3 linked regions of the Homo sapiens genome follow. The protein of the gene in region 1 purifies or fractionates together with the protein of each later gene. This does not show direct contact. Each region holds a gene or a part of one and is shown on either strand. Other genes may lie near its edges.

Region 1 (3,731 bases):
CTCCCCTGTTCTACACTGAATACCATGGAATCCAGTTACCTGGGCTGCATTCCCCTCATGGCCTCTGGCTGAACTGAAGCTCAAGGGACTTCAGCAAGGCTTTCATCAGCTTTATTGTGAAGAAAGAGATCAAGGAATCTAGATCTGGAACATACCTGCCCCTGCTCAGAAAACCGCCCTCTGCTAGTGCTGACCAACACTCTTGCCCATCACAGGTTCATTGCCACAGAGTTCGTATTTTCCTTAATGTGTTTTCCCCTCTTTCCTTCACAAGGAAGCTCTGTGTGCATTTCTAGATCCACTATCATCCAGTTCATCTGAGCTCACCTCTCCAAGCCCAGCTTGGGCAGAAAAAGGGTTCACTCTCAGTGCGCTGCCTGTGTTCCCGAAGGAAACCCCTGCACATGAGCAGATGGGTAGAGCCAGGAGAGCCCAAACCTCAGGCCCAGGCCCCACAGGGTTCCCCACTTGCCCCTGTACTCAAGAAGAGGCTTTGTTAATAAGCCTTCCATAGCTTGTGTTTCAGCTTCCTGAGAGAATAGTTGAGGCTTCAGAGAGAGGATCAGCAGATCTCTTTAGAGATGTGAAGACCGGCATTTGTGGGGAAGCAGGAGAGTTAGCTTCAGAGGACTTGGGGTGAAGCCTGACACTGCCTTATTTCCTCACCAGCCATGGAAACCAGGACTGAGAGAGGGCAGGCAGATCCCTCAGCTGCACTGAGGGCCACTTGAAGGAGCCCTTACAATCAGGCAACTCAGCACACATAGTCTCTCGAATTGAATGCTTCACAGAAAGCTCTCGAGACCTAGGTCCATGGAGAAGGTCAGGACTGCCTTACCTGTGGTTGCAGAGGGGCAAACCCAGAGAAACTGTCTTGATCCACCACAGATGCCACGACCTAAAATCAAGGACAGGAGGGTGTGAGGCTCTGCCAGCACTGTTTCCATTCTTCTGGGTCTCCCTCTTTGCTCATGCCCTAGACCTGTTCTTACGTGAGCCTGGTTTCAGACGTGGACAGTAACTAAGGATTAGATTCCTGAGCCTCTGGATTAGGATTTCAGCAACTGAAGAAACGAGCATTCACCCCACCCCTGCTAACACAGGCTTGCTTTCTTCTCTCTTAAAAAAGAAATGTTTTTAATTGAGGTGCAATTTGTATAACATCAAATTATCTTTTTTTTTTTTTTTTTTTTTGAGACGGAGTCACGCTCTGTTACCCAGACTGGAGTGCAGTGGCGTGATCTCAGCTCACTGCAACCTCTGCCTTCCAGGTTCAAGTGATTCTCCTGCCTCAGCCTCCCGAGTAGCTGATATTACAGGCACCCGCCACTGTGCCCGGCTAATTTTTGTATTTTCAGTAGAGACAGGTTTTCACCATGTTGGCCAGGCTGGTCTCAAACTTCTGACCTCAGGTGATCTACCCATCCAGCCTCCCAAAGTGCTGGGATTATAGGCATGAGCCACCACGCCCAGCCCAAATTAATCATTTTAAAGTGAATGATTCAGTGGCATTTATCACATTCACAATGCTGTGCAACTACTGCCTCTCTCTAATTCCAAAATATTTTCATCACCTCAGAAGAAAATGCTGTACCCATTAAGCAGTGTGTCCACACTCCCCTTTCCCCTAAACTGGCAACAACCGGTTTGCTTTCTGTGACTGACTTGAGCCCTCTTCTCTGAGTTTTAAAAATCAGATGTAAAGCTAGCTTTATTCACAAATATGCTTAAACTATAGATAATTTTCATCATTCATTCATATAATCAAAACATTTTTGCTGAGAGCTGTTATGTGTCTAGCACTGTGCCAGGCTGTGAGGACTCAGTGGAGATCAAGCAGACATGGTCTCTGCTCTCTCAGTGCTTAGAGGCTGCACCAGATATTTCCTATAAACGGAATTGTACAACATGTGGCCTTTCGTATCTGGCTTCCTTCACATAGCATAATGTTTTCAAGGTCCATCCATGTTGTATCATGAATCATACTCCATTCCTTTTTATGGCTACGTAGTATTCTGTTGCATGGATATATCACATTTTGATTACTCATTCATCAGTTGATAGATATTTGGAGGGCTTCCACTCACCCAGGCTTTCTTGACCTCTGCTGCTATGCTAGACCCAGCTACCCGACCACTGGGCAACTTTAGCCCTATGAATGTGTCAAGTCAAATGTGGTTTTGGAAGGGCACTGCTGACTCACTTCAGACCATGTCTGAAAGAATTTAAGACTTGGATTTATTATTATTATTACTATTTTGAGATGGAGTTTCATTCTTGTTGCCCAGGCTGGAGTGCAATGGCATGATCTCAGCTCACTGCAACCTCCACCACCCGGATTCAAGCGATTCTCCTGCCTCAGCCTCCCAGGTAGCTGGGATTACAGGCATGCACCGCAGCACCCAGCTAATTTTGTATTTTTAGTAGAGATGGGGTTTCACCATGTTGGCCAGCCTGGTCTTGAACTCCTGACCTCGTGATCCACCTGCCTCAGCCTCCCAAAGTGCTGGGATTACAGGCATGAGTCACCATGCACAGCCAAGACCTGGATTTAGAAGAAGTCCAATTTAAGACATAGTCTAAACATAGGGCTGTGGAAGTGGGGAAAGACTCCTCAGCCCACTAAAACGTGAACTACAAGGAGCATTAATCCAAGAGGATCCCATGCTGATCTCTTTCCCTAACATGTTCTCTTCATATTTATTTTTATTTTTTAGAAACAGAGTCTCAATCTGTTGCCCAAGCTAGAGTACAGTGGTGCAATCATAGCTCACTGTAGCCTTGAACTCCTGGGCTCAAGTGATCCTCTCACCTCAGCCTCTCCACTAGCTAGGCTGGTCTCAAACTCCTGGCCTCAAGTGATCCTCCCACTTCAGCCTTCCAAAGCACTGGGATTACAGGCATGAGCTACCCTGCCTGGCCCTCTCTTCACATTTAGTGAGCTCCTCATGGCTGTGTTTTCCCTCCATTGGCTCAGTCCCTAAGACTCAGCATCCTGTGAGTAACCCTGTGGCTCTCACCCAGGGTCGAGCTGGAAGGGAGAAATGGGAGCAGCTTGGAGAAAATAAACTAGACATGGTTGCCTATCTTTCAGCCAAACCTCTGTCCTATAAACAAGTCTCTCATTGCCATCCCAGGGACAGAGCCACAAGGAGGCTACCCTCTTCTCAAGAGTCCCTCCCACCTTGCTCCACATGGCCCGGGCCACAGGAGACTCAGGGGAAGCTGAGCAATCCCACCTACCGTCGCCTTGCCTAGGTAATCCTTCTTGGCCAGCTGAGCCACTTGTCTCTCATTTGGTCGAAACAGCTTGCCCACAGGGATCACCACTGGCTCATATAGCTTCTGCTTCTGTAACACAGAAAACGTAGCATTCCCTTATGTGAAAATGGGGGTGACGATGCTTGTCCTGCCTCCCTCAGTGAATAGATGCAAGAATTCATTGAGATAACCACATAGAAGCCCTTTTCCAAATGAGTGTTGTCATTCCTCTAGGGTGTTAAGGTAGGAACCCTTGGTTTCAATACCACCTTCTGCTGCGAGGCCACATGGACATTGCTGCTATTTGTTGCTATTCAGCACCCTCTTTTCCCAGAGGAACTGCTCCTCTCCCACTCTGTGTGCTGTCCGTGGGGTTCTCTCATGGTGTAGAGGGCACCACCACGACAAGGCTGGCCCGGGATCAAGCAAGGCTCATGACAGTGCTCCCTTGGATGGGTGTTTGCTGATGA
Region 2 (3,500 bases), on another chromosome or scaffold:
TTCCTCACCAAGCAATTACTCATTCCAAAATGAGAAAAGGGCATGTGAACAGTCTCTGCCTTACTGAATGGTGTTATTTCTCAGGCTGTAAATCAAGCTTTAATTTTTTCAAAAACTATCATAATCTGAAATTAGGATATATGGGTTGCGTATCACTTATCCAACATACTTGGGAACAGAAGTGTTTCAGATTTTGAATTTTTTTTTCAGATTTTGGAATATTTGCATATACATAATGAGATATCTTAAGGATGAGACCCAAGTCTAAGTATAAAATTCATTTATGTTTCTGGCTGGGTGCAGAGGCTCATACCTGTAATCCCAGCACTTTGGGAGGCCCAGGCGGGCAGATCACTTGAGGTCAGGAGTTTGAGACCAGCCTGGCCAATATGGTGAAACCCCGTCTCTACTAAAAATACAAAAATTAGCTGGGCGTGGTGGTGCACTCCTATAATCCCAGCTACTTGGGTGGCTGAGGCAGGAGAATCACTTGAACCTGAGAGGTGGAGGTTGCAGTGAGCCGAGATCGCGCCACTGCACTCCAGCCTGGGCGACAGTGCGAGACTCCACCTCAAAAAAATAAACAACAACAACAAAAAAACTTCATTTGTGTTTCTATACACCTTATACACATAGCCTCAAGGTAATTTTATACAATATGTTTAATAATTTTGTGTGTTTTGACTGTGATCTCATGAAATCAGGTGAAGAATTTTCCACCTGTAGTGTCATGTTGATGCTCAAAACGTTTCTGACGTTAAAACACTTTGGACTTCAGATTTTTAGGTTATCTGTATTCCCCTCAAAATGAACTGTTTATTCCACCTGCAGAACTTAAAACTTTTGGCTGAAAGGCAAAGTTTTCATTCAACATTTGCATGGTCTTATGATGTCTGGCAGAATAATGTCTATATCAGGGAAAGGACAGGCAAATCATTAAGCTAGAAGATGAAGAGCTTCTTAAAAATATTCCAGAGTCAAATATTATTTCTCCTCACATTCCACTTGAACTTTCAAGTCTGAGAAAGACTACAAAAATATCCAGGGGAACAGAAATGGTCATACAGCCAACCAAATGAACCAAATAACTTAGCACAGGGTTTCTAAAACTGTGGTCACCCGGCCAGTAGTTTGAGCATCACCAGAGAACTTGTTAAATCAGAAATTGAGGGTAGGGTCCAGTGGTCTCTTTTAAGAAGCCCTCTAGGTAATTCTGACACACACACTGAAGTTTGAGAATCTCTGGTTTCTGATAATCAAGCCCTGACACTGAACACCTTCAATTTTCAGCTTAGGGCTCCTATCATAATGTGCTCCATTGTGGCTGGGAGTCTCTGGGCTATGTTTGTGCCTTTCCGCCAGATATTGCAGTCAAGATTCTACCACAGAGCCAAGGCAAATTAACCTCCACTTCAGACTGCAAGGAGGAGAGAGAATAAAAAATGATTACAAAAAAAGAGATAGATCTATCTGTCCACAGAACAAACTTCTTAGAAAGCACAGAGAGGTGAAATCTTCCAGGTTTCAATTTCTCTGGTATTCTTACTAGTATATTCTCAAAGCTACTAACCATCAACTTTGAAAAAGAACTGAAAAATGACCTTCTAAAAATATATTGACAAAAAAACTGGTTACGTGAATAAAGCTCAGATAGTAATACACGTTTTTAAGAGAACTGAGAGTTGGGAAAACACTGGCATTAAATTCCTTTTTTTAATCTTAAGAACACAATTTGTAAAGTCTCTTTAAAATCATTCTTGCAAGCTTCAGTAAATAATACACAAAAACAACCAATAAACATTATAACAATCATGTTTTTACCTTTTAAATGATTGTTCATCCTATAATTATAAAACATAATGATGCTTCAAAACTCACAGGCAAATGTTAATTAAAAATTAACATAACAAAGTCTCATATTTTCAATAACAACTCCTGCTTTATTTTTTATTGTAGTAATGTATGTATAACATAAAATAACTTTTTAACAGAAAAATTTGGGTAATGCCATACAGACTCTTTTTGCAAGTGGATAAATATTTACAGAGTATTAGTGACCTATCCTAGACCTTTGGGAGAGAATCAGATATTCTTGTTTCCCCAATCAGTTTAAGTCTGTAATTCACTTCATGCCAATGGGATTAAGCCCTTTTCCCAGTTCAAATATTCAAGTTTAGCTGAAATGTGCTAAGCCTGACATTCCTCCTGTATAAGACTACATAGGCTTGACTAGAGACAGATCTGCATTGGCATACATTTCACCCCCATCTCCATTTCTCTTTGCACCTTGGAGAAACAGTGGTGCATTGAGCCATTCTGGTTGAATGCTTCTCCTGACACACATCCTTAAATTGACTCTGACCCAAAGGGAGGTGTGGAGCCAAGAGGGAACACATCACTGTGGCAACTCCCCACAACAGACCCCCAAGCGATTAGTACAGCACTCCCAGCTCTAAGGTCAAATGTAGATCCAACTCCAATATGTGAGTAGATACTCTTGAAAACATTATCATTTTATATTAGTAACCACAATCCTCCAACTCGGTGGCTCTGCATGAACACAAACTTTGCCATGGTGACCATATATCTCGGTTTGTCCTCAACAGTCCAGGTTTATTACTCACAGTGCTTGTATAATTATTAGTGGTGCCCCTTTTGACAATAAAATTGTCCCATATCAAACAATAAAGTATACGGTCATCCAACAGATAGGGCCATTGCATTAAAGGAATAGGCATGACAGACAAACCACAGACAAGTATGTTAGGGGATGTTTGCAGGTCTACTGCTCTAGGCTACGTTTGTAGACTTTATAGACTCTGTCGAGGACTGAGGGAAACACTTAGGAGACTCTCTTAACAATGATCTTAAGTCCAAATAAATAATTCTCCACTTCAAATATAGAACTCAGAACAAAGCAAACAGCAGGTCTTCCTTCTGATTTCAAGGGTCCCTAGAACTATCCACAGCCAACTCTGCATGAAGCATACTGCTGGATGATAATATGTTGAACTGACCCCTTTAACATGTCTAGCTGCAGAATCAACACTTCTGGGAATTTTTCTGCTAAATTCTTCAAAAAGGATGGTCCCAGCTTCCCCTACTATGACAGCCATATCAAATGAACCTGGATGCTCTAAAGGAAATACAGCAAACAGCACATAGTGTCAATGACTGCGCTTGTCCACTCAACAAATATTTATGCCAAAGATCAAAAGTGGCCGCTCATGGATCTCTAAAGCCATCTCTCAGATGTGTATTGTTTGGCCCAGATAGGATTCTTAAATGTTTACAATATTTGCCAGTACTTTAAAATGCGGGGTCATATATAAAAATTCAGATTTCCACTCTCTCTTGGGAAATCAGCAGCTCTAGCAACGCTAGACTTGCATCCTATTCATGCAATTTCCAAGTGGAGCTAAGTAGCACCTTGAGAAAGGCCACCCACTATCCAGTCCTCCATGGTCCTCACTCAACCCTCTTCTTTGTTATTTGAGTTT
Region 3 (3,731 bases), on another chromosome or scaffold:
ATTAAATGAATGAGTTGACTGGAGTTGTTTCCCTTTTTTTTCTAATTCCAAAGAGTATACACTACCGAATTGGGGTTTCTTCTTTCCTTCTCATCCTGTAGCGAATCTTTCTGTCTCTCTGACCATCTCTTCTGGTTTTCTAAAATTCAAAGATTTTGAACACTTTGGAGAAAATCAAAGAACATCTAAAGCCATTTAATTTGAATTGTTTATTTTATTGGCACTAGATGTAAACAGCTTTTTGTTCAAGGCTAAGATTCTTTTAATTCTCCTTTTTTTTTCTTGGTAAGGTCATAGGAGAGCACAGTGTTTAATCAAGGCTTCAACAATAAAAGACTAGATTTAATTTGAAAACCCAGAGAGTTCGAATTTATTCAATTCAGGTTTGCACCTAGGGTTCACTAAATCAGGTCTTGTTCATGGTACAAGGGATATAGCACCTATATGTGAATGAGACACACAAGGTCCTTTTGTGGAGCTTTTAACCTCTTTCTGAAATTTGTCTGTACTGTACCTCTGACAAAGTCCTTAGGGTGTTTTCATATATAGGCTTTATGTTTTAGGATTTTTAAATTAACATTTTGTTCTTTTTTTTTTTTTTTTGAGATGGAGTCTCGCTCTGTTGCCCAGGCTGGAGTGCAGTGGTGCAATCTGGGCTCACTGCAAGCTCCACCTCCCAGGTTCACGCCATTCTCCCACCTCAGCCTCCCAAGTAGCTGGGACTACAGGTACCCGCCACCACGCCCGGCTAATTTTGTTTTTGTATTTTTATTAGAGACGGGGTTTCACTGTGTTAGCCAGGATGGCCTCGATCTCCTGACCTCGTGATTGCCTGCCTCGGCCTCCCAAAGTGCTGGGATTATGGGCATGAGCCACCACACCCAGCCTAACATTTTATTCCTTATAGCCTTTAGTTATATGTAAAAAGTAGATTCACATAATAAATACAGCTGTAATTACTTAGTGGATCATATTACTGAATAATTTCTGGACCCTAGCAGCCAAACCATAAAAGTGTTACTTACAGTTGAATAAACATTTACTAAATCTTGCAGTGGGTAAAGCACTGTGTTGTAACAGCATGGGTGATACAGAAATGGATCAAACATTGTTCCTGCTCTCAAGGAATTTATAATCCTGGTGGGAAAAGTGAGCATTTGCACAAGCACCTCTACCAGGAGGTGCTTTAGTAGATGTACAGTGTACATAACAGTTTGTCTTTGGTTCCTGTTCCTGCTATGGTGACTTAGGGGAGGGGGTTGGTAGGTGCAAATTTGACTTCCTGAAGTTATTCCTCTATGCAGAAAATAAAGTTGTTTGACTTTCTCCCCAATTTTGGCCTTGAGCTACTTCCTGGACTTATTACCCCAAACTTTCATTATTTCTTCCTTAAAATATCCCATTATTTAAATTGACTGCAGTTAGCTCCTAGGTGCTTCTACATGAAGATTCGATACTTAAAGGCAGACTTTAAGTATTTAACACAGACTTAAAGACTTTAACACAGACTTAAAGACTTCAACACAGACTTAAAGGCAATGGTGGACCCTTAAAGACAAGGGTAGCTGTGAAGGGAAACACCACTGAGTTCTCACCCTGCACCTGCTCCTCTCCACCCTACTGTAGAACACAGTGCCTTGCCCATTGCAAGAATTTAGTGAATGTTTGTTCAACTGTAAGTAACACTATTATGGTTTGGCTGCTAGGGTCCAGAAATTATTTAGTAATATGGTCCACTAAGTAATGACAACTGTATTTAACTCCACACCACTGTGGAGAGGGGTAGGTACAGGGTGAGAACTCAGCAGTGTTTCCCTTTTCAGCCAACCCTGGAACAATATGGATTTGAACTGCATAGGTTCACTTATACATGGATTTTTTCCCAAAACAACTTGGATCAAAAATACTACACTTGCTAGATGTGAAATCTGTATATACATAAGGCTGATAGGACTAATTCAGTTTGGTTTAATATAGTTCAGATGCATTATTCTGGCCTTAGGAGCTCTGCCTGCTTAACTTTCTTAGGATGATGAATGTAACTTATGCCAAAATTGAGTAATGAGTAATGGCTTCACTGTGGTTTTTCCTAATTTGCTGTTTTAAAATTTTAGTTGGCCGGGCGCGGTGGCTCACACCTGTAATCTCAGCACTTTGGGAGGCCGAGGCGGGCAGATCACGAGGTCAGGAGATAGAGACCATCCTGGCTAACATGGTGAAACCCCATCTCTACTAAAAATACAAAAAAGTAGCCGGGTGTGGTGGCGGGCACCTGTAGTCCCAACTACTCTGGAGGCTGAGGCAGGAGAATGGCGTGAACCCAGGAGGCGGAGCTTGCAGTGAGCTGAGATCGCGCCACTGCACTCCAGCCTGGGCGACAGAGCGAGACTCCATCTCAAAAAGAAAATAATAATAATAAAATAAAATAAAACAAAATTTTAGTCACTTAAGTCTCATTGACTGATTATTAACCAGTCTAAGTATTTTAAATATTTGTAAGTAATTAGTCTGCTGTGTGAATGGCTTGAGTAGTCATTAAAGTGGAATGTTGATTTTATTTATTTATTGGAAACATTTCTATTTTTGTTGAACTCTCCTTCCTTTGTAGTTGAAATATTACGGCGGCCTTTGTTTATTTGGCTCTTTAATTTGGTCCCACACAAAAGGGACCAAACTTGAGAGTGCTGCTATTAAACAGGGGACCTGTTGGATCCGGTTAGATCTGAGGCCATGGTCAAACAAGTGAATCCCATGTATACCCAAGCCCCTTGCTGAAGACCTGGAACTCGTTTCTAAAGTCACAGACAACAACCCCTAAACATGGCCCATCATAATCGCAGTGTGTTAGCTGGGGATCAGACAAACTTATTCATTCCCTTTACCAGTCGTGGGAACACTGGATGGCATCAGCAGATGTCCATTTAGGACCCAGCCTTTCACGAGGGCAGAGCATTCATATAAACATTCTTCTCTCTCCTCCTCAGTAGTCGTGGAAATAACCATGGATAAGTCACCTGACCAGGGTTTAAATCCTGGGGATTTGGTAGTTTAAAAAGGTCCATTTTTACTGCCTTAATAGTCCTGTGAGTAGAGCAGGTTTTTATTTAACCACTCTGGATCTGTTTCCTTTTTTTTTTTTTTTTTTTTTTAAATTGAGACAGAGTCTTGCTGTGTCACCCAGGCTGGAGTGCAATGGCACAATCTCGGTTCACTGCAACCTCCACCTCCCAGGATCAAGCAATTCTCCTGCCTCAGCCTCCCAAGTAGCTGGGATTACAGGCGTCCACCACCACGCCTGGCTAATTTTTGTATTTTTAGTAGAGACAGGGTTTCACCATGTTGCCCAGGCTGGTCTTGAACTCCTGACCTCAAGTGATCCACCCACCTCAGCCTCCCAAAGTGCTGAGATTAGAGGCATGAGCCACTGCGCCCAGCCCTGTTTACTATTTTTTAACATCTTTATTGCGTTATAATTCACATACTATGCAATTCGCCATTTAAAGTATACAATTAAATGGCTTTTAGTGTATTCACAAAATTGTAAATCCATTACCACAATCAATGTTGGAACATTTTCACTACCCTAAAAAGAAACCCAGTGCCCCTTAGCTGTTATCACCCCCCCAGTTCCTCCCCTATTCCACCCAGCCCTGGGCAACAACTAATCTACTTTGTGTCACTATAGATTCACCTGTTGTGGACATTTCATGTAAATGGACTTATGCAGTAAG

Evidence for each region.
Region 2: the proteins of NCF2 (region 1) and TBC1D4 purify together in Homo sapiens (affinity purification with mass spectrometry; one large-scale study listed by BioGRID and IntAct). This does not show direct contact.
Region 3: the proteins of NCF2 (region 1) and BPGM purify together in Homo sapiens (affinity purification with mass spectrometry; 2 studies listed by BioGRID and IntAct, with this or other methods). This does not show direct contact.

The regions. Positions count from the first base shown.
Region 1 is NC_000001.11:183,569,942-183,573,672, forward strand, and holds part of NCF2 (neutrophil cytosol factor 2), read right to left. Parts: intron 3,352-3,731; coding exon 3,244-3,351; intron 899-3,243; coding exon 839-898; intron 1-838. UniProt on the Homo sapiens protein: Subunit of the phagocyte NADPH oxidase complex that mediates the transfer of electrons from cytosolic NADPH to O2 to produce the superoxide anion (O2(-)).
Region 2 is NC_000013.11:75,475,670-75,479,169, forward strand, and holds part of TBC1D4 (TBC1 domain family member 4), read right to left. Parts: intron 1-3,500.
Region 3 is NC_000007.14:134,670,777-134,674,507, forward strand, and holds part of BPGM (bisphosphoglycerate mutase), read left to right. Parts: intron 1-3,731. UniProt on the Homo sapiens protein: Plays a major role in regulating hemoglobin oxygen affinity by controlling the levels of its allosteric effector 2,3-bisphosphoglycerate (2,3-BPG). Also exhibits mutase (EC 5.4.2.11) activity.